Linked DNA regions of Homo sapiens. The protein of the gene in region 1 interacts with the protein of each later gene in a biochemical or structural test. Each region holds a gene or a part of one and is shown on either strand. Other genes may lie near its edges.

What was found.
Region 2: the proteins of KCNJ1 (region 1) and ARHGAP21 interact in a test that uses a peptide from one of them, tested with the Homo sapiens proteins (one large-scale study listed by IntAct).

The regions. Positions count from the first base shown.
Region 1 is NC_000011.10:128,837,366-128,840,606, forward strand, and holds the end of KCNJ1 (ATP-sensitive inward rectifier potassium channel 1), read right to left. Parts: intron 2,900-3,241; coding exon of another isoform or gene 2,879-2,899; coding exon 1,760-2,878; 3' UTR 655-1,759; downstream 1-654. UniProt on the Homo sapiens protein: Inward rectifier potassium channels are characterized by a greater tendency to allow potassium to flow into the cell rather than out of it.
Region 2 is NC_000010.11:24,615,888-24,619,387, reverse strand, and holds part of ARHGAP21 (rho GTPase-activating protein 21), read left to right. Parts: intron 1-3,500. UniProt on the Homo sapiens protein: Functions as a GTPase-activating protein (GAP) for RHOA and CDC42. Downstream partner of ARF1 which may control Golgi apparatus structure and function. Also required for CTNNA1 recruitment to adherens junctions.

The sequences.
Region 1 (3,241 bases):
CTTATGACCATCTCACTTCCAGCCATCTACATGCATGCTGCCAGCCAGCAGGAGAATACACCAGGAAGAGTGCATGCTGATGGGAACAAGTGTCAACACAGTTTCCCTCCAGTTTATGAAGGGGCTACATCATGACAGTGGGCCAGCAGAGAATTCCAGCTCCCTCAAGCTTGTGATACCTGATTTCTTTTTCCTGTCAGCACATTAAATTGTGGTGCCAAAGCACTCACAGGTACAGAGTGAGAGTTCCACATGGGCCAGCTATGGCCACTGTTATGGCCACTGACAAGGTGTGCAACCCTAAAACCATCAGACTTCCCACTGTTCTTAGTCAGAAGGACCAGAGTGGTGCATGGATCTGTACAAATACAGCCCAGGCATGGAAAAACATAAGCCATCCCTCCCAACAACTGTGGGCAGCTGCCGTTTTATGTGCCAAGACTCACACTGGAGAGGCGTGATGGAGCTGTACCGGAAGGGGTGTGTCTGTGGCCAGGGTCATTTCCTCCTGAGGACTCCAGACAACAAATGTGTCCTATCTGCTTCCTCTCCACTCCTCCCGCCCCTTCCAGGAGAGGGTCCTCTCTGCAAGAGGATTTTCACCTGGAACCTGACTCAGTTAATGCATAGTAATAATAATAATCAAAGTGCATGCACAGTTTCAGAAATTTACTATATTAATCAACACACTGAAAACATTTTGATTCCTAAGCAGCTTTGAGTACCAGTTTTTTTCCAGGACACATTCGGAATGATGCAGGTGGGGATCTGAAGAAGACTTTCACAGTAAAACTTTCCCCTCAAGGTCGAGCCTTCCATAAGCTGGTCCCTTTTAGGAAGATGGGCTGTCAGGGAAAGAAAGACATAGTAACATTCTGACTGTGGGGCTCCATCCCATTCCTCTCTCTTTCCCACTTCTTCTTTAGAAATAGCATTCCAGTACAAACTCTAGGTGGAGGAACACATGAAACTGTTTCTTCTCAGGTGCATTAATGATACATTCCCTTCTCTACTGACTTTGCACCTTCCAACTCCTCATTGCTGTCTTCGAAGAGCAGGAAATGCTCTTTATAAACAGATTTATAGCCCTTTAAGCCATCCAATACAGATTGAAAGAAATATCATCACCACTTTTAACTAAAGCATTCTGTCTTGCAGGAAGGTATCATCAAGATTCTAGTGTGCAGATTTAGCCTCTGTCTAAACGTACCACATGAGAAGCTTAGAGCCTCAAATTGTTCTTTGTGTAAGCGTTTTCTTGTCATTGATTGGTTGGTTCATCTCCCCAAATTAGGAGACAATTTTTCCATGAGTAAAAGTCCACATTAAAAGTGGAGTCATTCTTATCAGTAGAATCAAAATGAGATTATTATTGTCCCCTGATCCTTTCTAAAGTTCATAACTTCTTTAAGGAAACTTTAAAAAATATTTTGTTTGGCCTGTTCATGAAACTTTTGATAATTTTATCTGCTCCAATCCACCTTATATGAGCTCAAATAATCATATTTAAGATTTCAAGAGAGCACCTATGTCTTCCATACACCAGTTTCATATAAATGCATTGCACGTTCTAATACAGTAGCCTTGTGGAGATGCATGTCTTGTGGGATCACAATTGCGGGGCTCAGGGGTCTTTGTGCTGGTAGACTTTGAAGGCTCTCATCCTACTTTCGTACCCCTAAATTGTTGACTGCTTCATAATGCTTCTAGGTACTAGGAGCTTTAGAGACTTTGCTTTACTCCCGTTGAAAAGCCACTGTTACATTTTGGTGTCATCTGTTTCATTGACTTCTGACAAGATGAAGTTGGGGTTGTCATAGCCTCTCTTCATCCTGGCTCTAACATCTTTCTCATTATAAAGGCACATGGCACAGTGAGGGGTCTCCACTTCCACTGTCTTGCTAAAGTTATGGAAATCCACTCGGTATTTCCCTTCCTTTGTCTTGGATACTATGGGAGCAAAACGGTAGCCCCAAAGCACCTCCTCTGGGACATAGGATGTCCGGACTTGGCAGGTAGCACTGGTGGACTCCACTGTGCCATCTAAAAACACCACTAATTCAAAGTCCTGCTGGAGAAGGGTCTCCGCTGCCATGTGGAAGAAAGGGCTGTTGTGATCAATGACATGGTAAATTGTCAATGGGGAGATGAAGAATAAATTTTCATTCCCAGCGTCAACTACAAAGTTGATATTGATCTGGTCCAAAATAATGGTCTCTCCTTCAGGAGTGACTGTGGTCTTCAGAAGCTTTCCATAAATGTGACTGCCAATAAGAAGGCTCTTCCTGAGATTAGCCACTCGGATTAGGAGGCAAAGCTTCCCTCCCCGTTTGCTGATCACTGCGTTCTTGCTGAACGTAATGGTCTTGGCACGTTTTTTGGGCCTGGAGATCTTGGCTAAGATGGCCCCACACATGAAAGAATTGATTATAACTCCAAGTATAGACTGAAAGATAAGCAGAAAAATGGCAGTGGCACACTGTTCTGTCACACACCTGAATCCATATCCAATGGTCACTTGAGTCTCCAGAGAAAACAGAAAAGCTGAGGTCAAGCCATTAATATTCTCCACACAGGGAGTGTGATTGGCAGAAGGATGGAATTCCGGGAGGTCTTTGTGAATGTACGCTACTGCATACCACAGGAGACCAAAGAAAAACCAACTCCCCAAGAAGGCTGTGATGAAAATGGTCATTTTGTATCTCCACTTGAGGTCAAGTACCGTTGTCCAGATGTCCACAAAGAATATAAACCTTGACTGTGCCTCCACATTGCCAAATTCTATGTTGCACCTTCCATCTTTGGAGACTAGCCTTGCTCTTTGCCGAGAATGCCCAAAAAAGCGAGTGACGACCCATTTCCGAAGATGTTTGAACATACTTTCTGTCAACACCCTGATCTGAAAACACATCAAAGAAAAACAAAAAAGGATTATGTTTATAGCAATAGTGAACTAGGTGACCCACATGAAAGACCTAACTACGAAAAGATCATTCAAAATTATCTGGGTTACTAATCATTTGGCAAGCTGACAAGTTTATTCTGGATACCACAATGCTATTTCTGATAGAAACTTTCCACTGGAAGACCATGTTACTCAAACATAAAGAGGCAAAATAATTACAGAGAGCTAGAAATGAAGACAAACTAAGTGATTATATATTCAAGTGTTTCCTGACCTCAATTAGTCTCACACAACCTTAAATATGTTTGTAATAACCAATTATGACCTGTATTTTTA
Region 2 (3,500 bases), on another chromosome or scaffold:
AGAAGTCTTACACTGTGATTTTAAAATGTTTCTAGTGAATCTCATAAGCTGTGCTTCAACCAGAGCTTTCACAAACCTCTTTAAAAGTTATTTCTAGTACCAATTTTCCTTTTTTTAAAAAAAAAACAAAAACTTCATGTACCTAGTACCCATTTCAAATTTTTATTTTGATGAAACAAATTCCTGAGATTAAGGAAATCAGCGAAGCAAATTATACCTAATTGTTGATTCAGGTGAATGAAAAACCAAGTGGAACAGTTTTGATAATTAGTTACCAACCTTTCATTTAAACAGTGCTTTTACTTTCTAAAACATATTTCTTTGTAAATTTAACGTGTACTGAGAGAAAAGACCTCTTCATTGTCAAGTTAGTTTGCCATACTATAAATCCTGGAACAGATTTAGAGAAGTTACTTAAATTATAAGCGTGTGCCACAGTTGCCGGCACCTGTCCTGTTGAGTCTTCTGTCTGCTCCCTCCCACCCCAGATCTGTTCTCCATACAGCAGCCAGTGTGATGTTTTTAAAAATGTCAATTAGATCACACCACTCCTCTGTGCAGAACCCTCTGTTTCCTTCCCATTCATCTCACCCAAAATAGCATGCAAAATCCTCCCGTGATCTGAAAGGCCCTCCATGGTCTGCCTCACAACTCCCTCTCTGATGGTGTCAGAGAGATCCTACTTCGTGATCTCCTATCACAATCTTCCATGTGCATCCCATCTGCAGCCTCACCAGCCTCCTTGCTGTCAGGTGTGTGTTGCTACAGGGACAGGTACAGCTGGTTTCTAACCCTGGTATACATTCCACAGATAGTTAACAAGCCTCTGTCTTCCTCATGACATTTGGGTCTCTGCTCAAAGATCTTATCCAAGCAGGCTTTGTGACTCACCTATCTAAAACAGGTATCCCACGCACAGACACAGAAACGGACATTCTCTTCCCTTAAGCTTTTTTATTTATCTTCGTATTACTGTTTCCACTTGACATGTTTTGTTTTTTTGTTACATGTTTCTCAGTAGAACTAAAACATAAACTACATGAGAGCAGAGATTTAAAATCTTTGGTTCACTTTTGTGTCCCTAATGCCTAGAACACTGCGTGGCACATAAAGAATTCACTCAGTAAGTATTTGTTGAGATAATGGCTGAAAGACAATTTTGAAATGCTGGTTAAATGTATAGCACAACAATACAGTTCTCATCATGACTGTGCAGCTCTAAAACATCATCTGCTAACAGGTGATGACTTATGTCCTTAATATTATCTTCATTTTATAAGTGAGAAATTTAAGGTATAGAGAGGCTAAATAACATCTCTAAAATCGCATAGTAAGTGATAAGAGACAGGGTCTCTAGGTTTGCCTCATTCAGCCTCGTCCCAGAGCACAGCTCCAGGGAGCACGCCATTTATATGGAATGCCTGTGAAGAGCGCCCCCTGGAGGCATGCGATGCAGGGGCTTTTTTCCTTCTCTTTTTGCCACCAACCAAGGCCATACTTGTAGTCCCCCTGGTGTCCCATGGGTTTATGAAAAGAGTTCTCCATCATTTTACAATATAATATGCTTCTCTTTGAGTACTAGTTGAGTTTTTCTTTTCTACGGGAACATTTTTAAAGCTGTTGAGGACTGTTGTTTCTTTTCTACGGAAACATTTTTAAAGCTATCAATTGTAAAGCTATTGATAGCTTTAAAAATGTTTCTTGAGAAAACACTTAATTGGATAGGTGACACTAAAAGCTTTTTTAAAAAGTTCCACACAGCTTATGTTTTTTTTTATAAATCGGATATATTCAAGTTGTCAACATTGTGGGGAATCTCAACCTAAATTGTACCCATATTCATATCTATACCCCTAAGGCCAAGCTCAGCAAATAGTAGACTCCTGTTGTAGATGGAATCTTATACATCATCTAGAATAGATATTTTATAGAAGGCAACTGATGACGAATGATTGTTTTATGAAGTTTTAAAATGTAAAAAAATCTTACAACCTGTGGCTGTTTCACAGGCCCATGCGATCTTATCAGAACAGTGGCATCATATTTTCTTCCTACATAATAACAACAATATAATCAGATTACATTGGAGTAGTAAAAAAATGTGCTGGATATATCTGTTAATATTTCTTCCTAGTTATGAAGTATAGAAATAAAACAATTATGTTATTAAAGAGAAGATTTTGGCTAAAATAGAAAATAAAGATCTGTATAATTCTATATACATATAGATTGATGTAAATAAATAATTTTATTTACTAAGAATAAAAGTACTCTCTAATTAGTTCCTATCTTATTTGACTTTCGCCCTCCTTCCCCCGCTGCTCACCTTCTGCTGTGCGGCCCAGCTCCTAACCGGCCATGGACCAGTACCAGTCTGCAGCGCAGGAGTTGAGGACCCCTGCTATATACTAAGGTTGCAGGAGGCATACAGGCATACAAAACAAAATGAATACATTTTGTTTTTAAATTTGGAATATTACTCATTAACAGTATTTTGTTTACTGTTCCCACCCCCCACTTTATAAAGCTGCATAGTAAGTCCTGAAAATAAATTTCAACTTCTTTTATAAGTAAACACAAACCTCAACAATGTGAGCTGTTCATGAGTAATCTCACGGTGAATAGCAGATATTACAATGTGTTCTAAAATCCTGACTTCCTACACTTCTCTAATTTATACCACTCATTACTAGTAATACAAAAATGCTACGACTGTTACCTACACTCAGGGTTTCATCTTAACTTTCTTTCTCCATAGTTTTGTCATATCTCTTAAGACTCCTCCTCCATCTTACCCCAACATTGGCTGCGTGTGTGCTCAGTTGAGGGTTAGCCCTAAGTTAAATTGAATTTGATGGTCACAGCCTTATTGGCACTGCCATATCAAGATGATTTAGAAGTGTTAGATTTGGTAAGATATAGCTGGATTACATTGTCCATACAGGGGAACTTAGCTCCCTGAAATTTACCCAAAGGGAAGAGGTGACCATTCCCTATACCCAGTTTCTCCCTTTGGGAGCTCTGGGCTCAGTGCCAGTGGTGATATGACAGGACGATGCAATGAGCACCCAGCCCTTCTTTAATACTAATTCAGGCTGAGTCTTAGCAAATAGTCTGTTTATAAAGAGAAATCATATACTTTATCATCTTACATCTTTTATAAAGAGAAATCATGTACTTATCATCTTTATATGTCTTTTTCATATATTGGCTTTTCCCAAAAATGTGATGCCATTGGTACTTAAGCTTAGAGATTTTTGCTTCCACTATTTGAGTAACGATGTGAGGTAATTTAAAAAATAATAAAATAGTCCGGGTGCAGTGGCTTGCGCCCGTAATCCCAGCACTTTGGGAGGCTGAGGCAGTCAGATCACTTGAGGTTGGGAGTTCAAGACCAGCCTGGCCAACACAGTGAAACTCCATCTCTACAAAAAAAAATACAAAAATATTAGCTGGGCGTGGTGGGGTGCCTGTGAGCCCAGCTACTTGGGAGGCGGAGG